Linked DNA regions of Homo sapiens. The protein of the gene in region 1 purifies or fractionates together with the protein of each later gene. This does not show direct contact. Each region holds a gene or a part of one and is shown on either strand. Other genes may lie near its edges. The genes, in order: TGDS, POTEE and MTF2.

Evidence for each region.
Region 2: the proteins of TGDS (region 1) and POTEE purify together in Homo sapiens (affinity purification with mass spectrometry; 2 studies listed by BioGRID and IntAct, with this or other methods). This does not show direct contact.
Region 3: the proteins of TGDS (region 1) and MTF2 purify together in Homo sapiens (affinity purification with mass spectrometry; 2 studies listed by BioGRID and IntAct, with this or other methods). This does not show direct contact.

The regions. Positions count from the first base shown.
Region 1 is NC_000013.11:94,594,397-94,598,150, reverse strand, and holds the start of TGDS (dTDP-D-glucose 4,6-dehydratase), read left to right. Parts: upstream 1-1,998; 5' UTR 1,999-2,014; coding exon 2,015-2,100; exon of another isoform or gene 2,101-2,176; intron 2,177-3,754.
Region 2 is NC_000002.12:131,247,488-131,251,241, forward strand, and holds part of POTEE (POTE ankyrin domain family member E), read left to right. Parts: intron 1-3,290; coding exon 3,291-3,361; intron 3,362-3,754.
Region 3 is NC_000001.11:93,082,196-93,085,949, reverse strand, and holds part of MTF2 (metal-response element-binding transcription factor 2), read right to left. Parts: intron 1-3,754. UniProt on the Homo sapiens protein: Polycomb group (PcG) protein that specifically binds histone H3 trimethylated at 'Lys-36' (H3K36me3) and recruits the PRC2 complex, thus enhancing PRC2 H3K27me3 methylation activity.

The DNA.
Region 1 (3,754 bases):
AAGTAGAGTAACCAGACTATACTAGCACCTTAGTCGAATTCTAAATCCCAAGAAGAGGCTTCAGTTGGCCTAGAGTCAGCCAGATTTCATTCTGTGGCCTGCCTGGGTCAACTTGGGGAGATCATAAAGGACAGTGGGGGGAGGAGTCTGGTCAGAAAAAAACTGTACGTATCGACTGCAATATATTTTGGTCTTCATTCCATGTTGGTATATTCTTTTTAAAGGCTATATAGCAGTTTACTGCATTTTAAAAGTTAGAAGACATTATACACATTTAGATTATTTCCAGTGTTTCATTATTGCAAGCAATACAGCAATGAACAATTATCTATATTATACATCATGGAATTTGAGGGGGTCATAGAATATGAACATTTGAAATTTTCATATGTTTTACCACTTTGCCTTGTAAAAAGGTTGTGGTATGATTCTTCCACATATACACCTGTACTGGATGTTTCCATTCGTTTTCAGCTTTGCCAAACATTATGGTGGGGAAAAAAAGATATTTATCTATTCGACAATATTTAATGGTCATTTATTCTGTGCCAAGTCTCTAAGGACATGCGATTACAGCAGAAAACAAAACAAAGCCCCTGACCTCATGGAACACTAAACAGAGGGCAGTGACATCAATGTAAATGTTGAGTGCTAGGAAGAAAAATAAAGAAGGATAAGATGATTCGGCAGGGTTGGGCAGAGCTCGCTATTTTAATTGTGGTGGTCAATAGGATGCCATTCAAGCTGAAAACGGAAGTAAGGGTAAAAACTAGGCAGACATCTGGGGAAAGACAATCAAGGTCCCGGGGAAGTAGCATGCCTGGCACATTGAATGAAGAGCAAGGAGGGTGGGGAGGCTGGGGCGGAGTGAGCAAAGGAGAGAATAGAATAAGACATCAGCGTAGGACCTAGGGAATATCTTTATCATGATTGCAAGCCTTCTGCGCTGTCTGTAATAATAATATTATTATTTTTTGAGACGGAGTTTTGCTGTTGTTGCCCAGGCTGGAGTGCGATGGTGCGGTCTCGGCTCACTGCAACCTCTGCCTTCCGGGTTCAAGCAATTCTCCTGCCTCGGCCTCCCAAGTAGCTGGGATTACAGGCGCCCGCCACCACGCCCGGCTAATTTTTGTATTTTTAGTAGAGACAGGGTTTCACCATGTTGGCCAAGCTGGTCTCGAATCCTGACCTCAGGTGATCCGCCCACCTCGGCCTCCCAAAGTCCTGGGATTACAGGCGTAAGCCACGGCGCCCGGCCTGAAATAATATTAACAACAGCAAAAGATCATTTTGCAGGCCAGGCACGGTGCTCACGCCTGTAATCCCAGGACCTTGGGAGGCTGAGGCGGGAGGTTGGCTAGATCCCAGGAGTTCGAGACCAGCCTGGACAACAGGGCGAAACCCATCTCTACCAAAAATTAGGCGGGCGTGGTGGCGCACGACTGTATTCCTAGCTACTCAGGAGGCTGAGGTGGGAGGATTGCTTGAGCCCCATTGGTCGACGCTGCAGTGAGCCGTGATCGCACCACTGCACTCCAGCCTGGGTAACAGAGGGAGACCCTGTCCCCGCCCCACTAAAAAAAAAAATCATTTTTAAATTGCAACCTCCCATCTCCATCTGCAACAACTCCCCGTTCTCAGCTCAACTGATAGGTAACCTCTAGAGATGGCTGTAGTACAAGAATGAAAAAAGGTACTCATTCATAAATCTGATCCATAGTGGTGGCATTTCCGGGAAAAACGTTCCATACCCCTACCATCCGGGCGACCCCAATTGCACCTGGCGGACCAGGCAAGGGCGGAAAGGAGCAGCGCCTGCGCGTGGTGAGCGCGGCCCCGCCCAGCCCGCTAGTGGGCGGGCAGAAACTGGCCACAGAGCAGTCTCCGGAAGCTGCCTCTGGCTGCTCTGTTAACGTGTCCCGCGAGCGAGGCGCGTCGCAAAAGGTCGCGGCGGAACTTCCCTGCGCTTTTCAGACCATACTCTTTACGGTACTAGGCACTGCTGAGCTGGGAGATGTCGGCGGCGTGTTGGGAGGAACCGTGGGGTCTTCCCGGCGGCTTTGCGAAGCGGGTCCTGGTGACCGGCGGTGCTGGTTTCATGTAGGTAATGGCGCCGCTAGCCAAGCAGTGGCTCCCCAGAAACCCCTACCTTTTCCCGCAGCTCTGCTTGCCCTAGGTAATTTGGGTCCAGCTTTGAGGGGTCCTTATTCTGATATGGGGAGGGTCCTAATGCACGACCTGGACCAGCTTTTCTCTCTCTGGCCTGCAAAGAAGTGGTTCCTTTGAAACTGACTTCTTTAAAACGCCTCTTCCAAAGCTGCGTTACTCTCCGCCCTTCTGTGGCCGGAGGTGCTCACCATGTCACTCCTTGAGTGCGTGCAAGTTACCCTAAGCTGCTCACCGACTGCTTCCCACCTCCAGCCTAGAGCACCCACACCCCACGATGGGCCCTGTACATATAGGCACCCCCAAAACGATTTAAGGACTATAATAGGACATCTATGTAATCAGCAAACTTTTACAAATCCACTGTTGACACCCTTTTCTTCCTCAGACCCACATTCGAGCAGCAAGTCCTCTCTACTTCCAAAGTATATCCTTACGGCGACCACTTCTCACCAGTTTCCCGTTTCCACCCTAGCCCATGTTTACTGTCATCTTTTGCCTCGACTGCTGCTGTAGCCTCTTGGTTGGCCATAACTGCGTCCACTCATGTTCCTTTAAAGCCTGTTGCTCACATACAAGTCAGTGTTTCTTAAGTCAATCAGATCATGGTAGAAGCAGGATTTTACTTCAGTGGTTCCTGCCACACTTAAGAATAAAGCCCAAACTCTACCATATCTAGAAAACTCAAGTGCCCAAGCCCTACTTTTGCAACCTGATCTGCTTTTCTGTACCTGCCATGCTTCCCCTCTTAGTTCTTGGAACACACCAAGATACACACTTCTGTCTTGAGGCCTTTGCACTTGCTTCCCCTTTCCTTAGGCTGTTTGCACCACTCAATTCTGGTTTTTATTCAGATAGCACCTCAGAGAGTTCTTACCTGACCACCATATCTAAAATAGCCCCTCTCCCAACTAGCACACTTAACCTCTACCTGAAATTATATTGCGGATTTGTGTCTGCTTGTTTATTGCTTGTATCCCCACTCTAAAATGCAAACTCGGTAAGGACAGAGACTACTGTTCATTCAGCACCTGGAAGAATGCCTGGCCCATTCTATATAAGTCTTTAGTAATTGTGGAATGGATGAATGCAAGAGTAATAAACAGGAAACTCTCCTATCCTCCCCTCAAGGAACTCAGTGGCTAGTGGAAGAAGTGGGAATGTGAGGATTCCTGTTTATGGCCATTTGCACATTAAATCACCCCTTCTAATCCGACAAGTCATTTGGGGGAGAGCATCAGGCTGGCAAGTTTCACTTAATGAGAAAGAGGACTATGGACATGAAAGGGTGATACTTGTGTGAGAGTGCGGGTCCAGGAAGGGTGCGACTTAGAAAGTGCTGTGAAAGGAATGCCGAATACAAACTTCAAGTTCATAATTTGGTCAAGGGCTCCCCTCTCCTGGGAGCCCAACATTTTAAGTATACATGGTAAATCTGGTAGATCATTTCACTGAGATATGCCTGTGATTCCCCTTTAGGGTCCTCTGAAGCCCAGGACCCACTGTGGATATCCAACTCAGAATGGTTTCAGCTGTTATTAGCCTGGGAATCCTGGGTTTAGTCTAGAAGCCTCCTGAGGATTCTGGT
Region 2 (3,754 bases), on another chromosome or scaffold:
ACATTTCATTGGCTGGGTCATACCACATGCTCATTCCCAAACCAGGCACTGGGAAGGTAAATATCTGATTAGCTTAGAATAAACATTTCTTTCTGAGGCTGAGGAGGGGGATTGGGATATTAAATATCCCAATAGACTTATGTTTTTTCTGCCAGAAAGAATGAGGAATGGCTATTGATAGGGAGCCAACAATGTGTGCTGGAGGGGGCTCATTGGAGAAATTTGAGCAGGGGAGCCACAAGATTAAATTTGAGTATTAAGGCATTCTGGTTATGGTGTAAAATGGGTTAGCAAGCTTTTTCTTTAAAGGACCAGGTGGGAAATATTTTGGACTATGTGGTCTCTGTCATATCTACTTAACCGTGCTGTTGTCTGCTGTTGTAGTGTGAAAGCCACCATGATTATATGTAAGCAAACAGGCATGACTGAGCTCCTATAAAACTTTATTTACAAAACCATAATGCAGATTGGATTTGGCCTGTGGCCTATAGTTTCCTGGGATTGATGGGAGATAATCATGCAAAGAAACCAGGAGACAAAGGAAGCTTTTGCAGTAGTCAGCTATAGTTTCCATGTCACACATCCTTGGAGTAGCATCAATGTATTACAAGGTTTTCACCCGTCCATGGTGAAATAAATAACGTTAGAAATCTCAGTTACTCATTTTACTATGTTGGCCTTCGTTATGCCCTTTTCACTTGTTTTGCTTAATTTTTTTTCCTGTAAGAAATAACATTAATAGTTGGCAGTTTTCTTTTAAATAGAAGTCATTTTGTAAATGTTTGTGTTCCCAGTGGCAGTGGGAATATAAAACAGAGGCAGAAGAGAGGTATAGTCAATATGATTTAGTGATAATTGAATGAGAAAGGCTTGGGGGACAGAGAGAAATCTCAGATGATGTACAGGTTTCCAGATTGCACACTAGTATTTAACCTGGACATGAGGAAGGAGTAGGAAATTTTCTGGTGAATACAGAAGAGCAAAGAGCAGCAGGTCAGCAGGAATGACTAATGTTTTTCGATGCATGTTTAATGGAATATTCGTGTAGGGTATTTTGAGTAGGTAATTGGATAATCAGCATTTATAACTCGCATCCTACTAGTTTGACTCTAAGTAATAAGACTTGTCAAAGATCCAAGAATCTGAAAGTCAGTAATAAATGTCCATGTGCATCATCGTCCGTGACAGAAAGTCAGCATCCACAGAACACAGAATTGGGACAGATGAACTTAATAGATAAAGATGAATATCGGAGTTGTTCCTCTTAGGGAATGATACTCTCCATGACCTGTGTGAGTCACAGCTGCCAGAAAAGAAAGAGCAAGGAGCGTATGAAGGCAGCACAGCAAATTCGGTCCTAGAGTGCCCTGCTTGGCTTCATGTCATAGTTCTGACTTCTAAATAATCATTTTCTGCAAAATGTGCTTTGTGTTTTTCCCTCTTGCCGCCTGCAGCCAATCAGAATCTTTTTAGCAGGACATAATGAAAAGAAGTAAGAGAAAGAGTGTTTTTTTGTAATGGGATAGTATTTAACGTAAACTTGAGAGTGAGTACCAGGATTATACTTAGAATTTATGGACTGGATGGGAAGACTGGATAGAAATCTAAAGATTGCTGACTCAAACACAATGTGGTTTCTTTGATTTATTTTCACAGCTCTGAATTCACGACTGTTAATTGTATTCATATGCATTATAACTTTACAAAGCATCTTCCGAAACCAAATATTTACTGATTTATTATAATTTGTATGACTTTATTATAGAACTGACTTTCCAAGTGTTCATGAGAATTGTTTAGAATTTGCTACATTGTATCATCTCAGCTGTGTCCACATGAGCTATCTGTCACCTTGTCTTAATGAATAATTGTTCACTAGGAATATTGGTTTTGGCATTGAAATGATCTATATCTAAATGCAGATAGGACCCGGGACCACTTTTGAACATTAATGTTCAAGCATCTTAAAATTACACATAATGCTTTCATAATCTGACTTCTGCCCCACTCTCCATCTTTAGCCCTTTTCCCTGTGTGCCCTGTCTCTGGCATTACTGAACTGCTGGCAGTGCCCTACTCACTCATCCTTCTATTGTAGGCAAATACTTTCACTCTTTCAGGAGTCGCTCCCGCTCTTGCTGCTGCGTGGCATGCCGTCACCCTTTCCTGCCCTCTACACCTTTTAATCTGGCTAGTCTCAATATTTAAGTCTCTGCTTGGGCATGTGTTCTAGAAAAGCCATCTCTGACATGCTTTATTTTAATTCTTTTTAAACCCTAATGCCTAGCATGTATTTAGCAGGACTCAATAAAATATTTCTGAGTAAAACAAAGACTGTTTTTACAAAGATGATGTGCAAGACTCTCCCCTGCAGTCTTGGAGCAGAGGGGACAGACGTGGAGGAATAATGTACAGTTTAGGTGGTCAAGATGCAGTAGAAAAATCAGTAAAGTACTAAGGCAGCCTCAAGGAAGGAGGTACCTGTTTATTTGGGGAAAGACATGCAGAATCAAGGAAAACTTCATATAGCATTGTTTCAAAAGATGAAAATAAGGCCAGGTGTGGTGGCTCACACCTGTAATCCCAGCACTTTCAGAGGGAATCACGAGGTCAGGAGATCGAGACCATCCTGTCCAATGGTGAAACCCCATCTCTACTAAAAATACAAAAATCAGCTGGGTGTGGTGGTGCTTGCCTGTAATCACAGTTACTCAGGAGACTGAAGCAGGAGAATCACTTGAACCAGGGTCGCGGAGGTTGCAGTGAGCTGATCACACCACTGCATTCCAGCCTGGTGACAGAGGAAGACTCTAGCTCATAAAAAAAAAAAAAGAAAAAAGAAAAAAAGAAAATAAATTTGTCAGAATAGTGGAGAGAAACATTTTAGATATTAGGAAGATGTTGTACACTAATAAAGGTGTCAGCAGTGATTTTGGAAATCATTTATAAGGTACTATTAGGAAGTGGAGAACAGTACACTGTGTCACCTTATATGTTTCTACTGTATTTTAAAGCTGTGTTTCTGGTGGTTTTGTTCATGGATGTTGGGTGGATGAATTTGTGAGGGAATTTTTGACATGTTTGTTTGTCTTCAATCTGGTGACATCTGCTATCTCCCCAAGTGGGTTTTTGAAGTTTTTGAGAATTATTTCTTAAATGACAATTTCACAAAAGATGAAACACTCAATTTATGAAATAAAATGAAATGTCTCAAATCTGTTTTTAAAAGGCAATAGTTTTTAACTGTTTTAAGTGGTTGATTTTAACTGAATGTATGGATTTTTCAACAGAACAAGACTTAAAGCTGACATCAGAGGAAGAGTCACAAAGGCTTAAAGGCAGTGAAAATGGCCAGCCAGAGGCATGGAAACTTTTAAATTTAAACTTTTGTTTAATGTTGTGTTTTTTTTGCCTTAATAATATTAGATAGTCCAAATGAAATTACCTTTCAGACTAGGCTTTGAGAATCAGTAGATTGTTTTTTTAAGAATCTTTTGGCCAGGCAAGGTGGCTCACGCCTGTAATCCCAGCACTTTGAGAGGCTGAGGCAGGTGGATCACGAGGTCTGGAGATCGAGACCATCCTGGCTAACATGGTGAAACCCCGTCTCTAGTAAAAATACAAAAACTTAGCTGGGCGTGGTGGTGGGTGCCTGTAGTCCCAGCTACTCGGGAGGCTGAGGCAGGAGAATGGCATGAACCCAGGAGAGGGAGCTTGCAGTGAGCCGACATCCACCACTACACTCCAGCCTGGG
Region 3 (3,754 bases), on another chromosome or scaffold:
TGATAACAAACGACTGTGTTACTGGTTTATGTATATGCTATTTAGTTGTCCCTTGGTATCCACAAGGCACTGGTCACAGAACCTCCTGAGGATACCAAAATCCACAGATACTCAAGTTCTGCAGTGTGACCCATAGAACCTATGGATGCTAAAAGTTGGCCCTGGCTGGGCCCAAGTGGCATGCCTGTAATCCCAGCACCTAAGGAGGCCAAGGCAGGAGGATTGTTTGAGGCCAGGAGTTCAAGAATAGCATGGGCAACATACCAAGACCCCGTTTCTACAGAATATTTTAAAAATTAGCCAGGTGTGGTGGCATGCACTTGTAGTCCTAGCTACTCAGGAGGCTGAGGTGGAAGGATCACTTGAGCCCGGGAGTTTGAGGGTACAGTGAGCTATGATCACGCCACTGCACTCCAGCCTGGGCAACAGAGAGACCCTGTCTCTTTTAATGAAGAAAAAAAAAAAAAAAAAAAGGCCGGGTGCAGTGGCTCACGCCTGTAATCCCAGCACTTTGGGAAGCCACGAAGGGCGCATCATGAGGTCAGGAGATCGAGACCATCCTGGCCAACATGGTGAAACCCCGTCTCTACTAAAAAATACAAAAAAATTAGCCGGGCATGGTGGTGGGCATCTGTAGTCCCAGCTATTCATGAGGCTGAGGCAGGAGAATGACATGAACCTGGGAGGCGGAGCTTGCACTGAGCCGAGATGGTGCCACTGCACTCCAGCCTGGACTCCGTTTCAAAAAAAAAAAAAGAAAGAAAGAAAAGAAAAAAGGTAATGTAATTAGGATCCATAACTATACTATAATGACAATGCTTTGAAATTTTAAAAGTATTTTTAGTACTAGATAAGCACTTCACAAACTACCCTTCTATCTCCCTGATTATGGGAGAATTCTTTAACTACTATCAAAAAATCCTCAGAACTGAGAATCAACAGAGGGGCTCAAGTACTGATAAGAACTTTAAATTAAATGAGGATAGGAGAAAGTGATGCTTTATCTTATCAAGGAAAATGGTTTACTTTGTTTCTATATGTTCAAAGTATTTCTTTTAATACTTACATTTTTAAAGACAGGGCCTTGCTCTGTCACCCAGGCTGGAGTGCAGTGGCACATCATAGCTCTCATAGTTCACTGAAGTCTCAAACTCCTAAGCTCAAGCAATCCTCCTACCCAATCCTCCTGCCTCAGCCTCCTGAGTAGCTGGGACCACCGTGCCTGGCTCAGGAATAAATTTAACAGAAGAAGTTCGAGAATTGTACAATGAAAACTACATAATATCAGAGAAAGAAATTAAATAAGATCTATATAACTGGAAAGGCATCCCATGTTCATAGATGTTAATAATATTAAAATGGCAAGTCTTCCCAAATCAATCTATAGATTCAATACAATACCTACCAAAATCCCAGCTGCGTTTTTTTGCACAGACTCACAGATTGATCCTAAAATTTACATGGAAAAGTGAAAGGAACCCAGAATAGCCAAATTGTTTTTTAAAAAGAAAAAAACTTGAGGACTCACAACGTCCCAATTTCAAAACTTACTATGAAGTAATGGTAATTAAAATATTATGGTACAGTCCTAAGTACAGACACATAAATCAATGGAATAAAACTGGGATCCAAGAACAAACTTTTACATGTATGGTTAATTTATTTTTGACAAGATTGTCAAACACAAGTCAATGAGGAAAGAATTAGTTTTTTTTAACAAATGGTACTAGAAAACTGGTATCCACATGCAAAACACTGAAGTTGGACCCCTACCTCACACCATATATAAAAAATTGACTCAAAATAGATGACGGACCTAAATGTAAAAGCTAAAACTATAAAGCTCTTTAGATACGGCATCAAAAGCATAAGCAAAAAAAAAAGGAATAAATTGAACTTTATCAAAATTAAGAATATTTGTGCTTAAAAGGACACCATCAGGAAAGTGAAAAGATAATGCACAGGATGGGGGAAGAAAAGTCTGCAAATCATATCTGATAACAGGCTTGTATCCAAGAATAAAAAGACAGTCCCATTTTTTAAATGAGCAAAAGACTTAAATAGACAGTTCTCCAAAGAAGGTATACAAATGGCCAACAAGTATGTGGAAAGATCCTCAATATAATTAGCCATAAGTGAAATGCAAATCAAAACCACAATGAAATACCAATTCAAACCCTAGGATGGTTATAATCAAAAGATAGACAATAATAAGTATCAGTGAGGATGTGGATAAACTGGTGAGATAATCACTCACCAGATAATCGCTAGTGAGCTTGTAGAATGGCACAGCCTCTTTGAAAAACAGTTTGGCAGTTCCTCAAAACACTAATCCGAGTTATCATCTGACCCAGTAATTTCACTCCTAGATATGTGTACCCAAGAGAAATGAAAACATGTTCACCCAAACCCTATACATGAATGATCACTGCAGCATTACTTACAATAGTCAAAATGTGGGAACAACCCAAATGTCCATCAACTGATGACTAGACAAACAAAAAAAGGTATATTCATATAATGAAATATTATTTGACCCTAAAAAGATATGAAGTGACTATAAATGCTACAACATGGCTGTTCCATGAAAACATTAACGATATAGTTTGGATTTTGTGTGCCCGCCCAAATATTCCGTCAAATTGTAACCCCCAACATTGGAGGAGGCCCCTGGTGGGAAATGACTAGATCATGCAGGCAGATTTTCCCCCCTGCTGTTCTCATGATACTGAGTTCTCTGGTTGTTTAAAAGCATGTGGAGCCGCCCCCATCTCTAATCCTCCTGCTGTGGCCACTTCAAGGGGGCCACTTCAACAGGAAGTTTCCTGAGGCCTCCCCAGCCATGCTTCCTGTATGGCCTGTGGAACCGTAAGCCGATCAAAATTATTTTCTTTATAAATTACCCAGTCTCAGTTATTTCTTCATAGCAGTACAAGAATGGACTAATATAGTCATGCTAAGTGAAGGAAGCCAGACATAAAAGGCCACATATTGTACTACTCCATTTACATGAAATGTCCAGAACAGGCAAATTTATAGACACAGAAGGTAGATTAGTGGTTGCCAGAGGATAGTGGATAGGTGAAGGGGACTGACTGTTAATGGATTAAGATTTTCTTTTCTTTTTGGGATGATGAAAATATTCTGAAATTAGGTATGGTGATGGCTGCACAACTTTGTGAGTATACTAAAAAAAATCACTGAACTGTACACCTTCAAAGAATGCATGTGAATTATGTACATATAACTATAGTATATAAATTATATCTCAATAAAACTTATTAACAACTGTACAGTTAAGATTTGTGCATTTCAATATATGTAAACTTCACCTAAAAATAAACCTTTAAAAAATAATAAAAACAATGGGCTGGGCACAGTGGCTCAATCCCAACACTTTAGGAGGCCACAGCAGGAGGACTGCTTGAGGCCAAAAGTTCATGACCAGCCTGGGCAACACAGTAAGATCCCGTCTCCACAAAAAAAATTAAAAATTTAAAAATTAGCCAGGTGTGGTGGTGTGCACCTGTAGTCCTAACTACTCGGCAGGCTAAGGCAGGAGGATCACTTCCGCCCAAGAGTCTGAGGCAGCAGCAAGTTATGATAGCACCACTTCACTCCAGCCTGGGTGACAGAGCAAGACCTTGTCTCTTTTTACAGAAAAAAAAAAAAAAAAGAATGGTTACATAAAAGCTCACTATTCTATTCTGCTCACTTTGTATTATGTTTGAAATATTCCTTAAGTTTTTTCTAC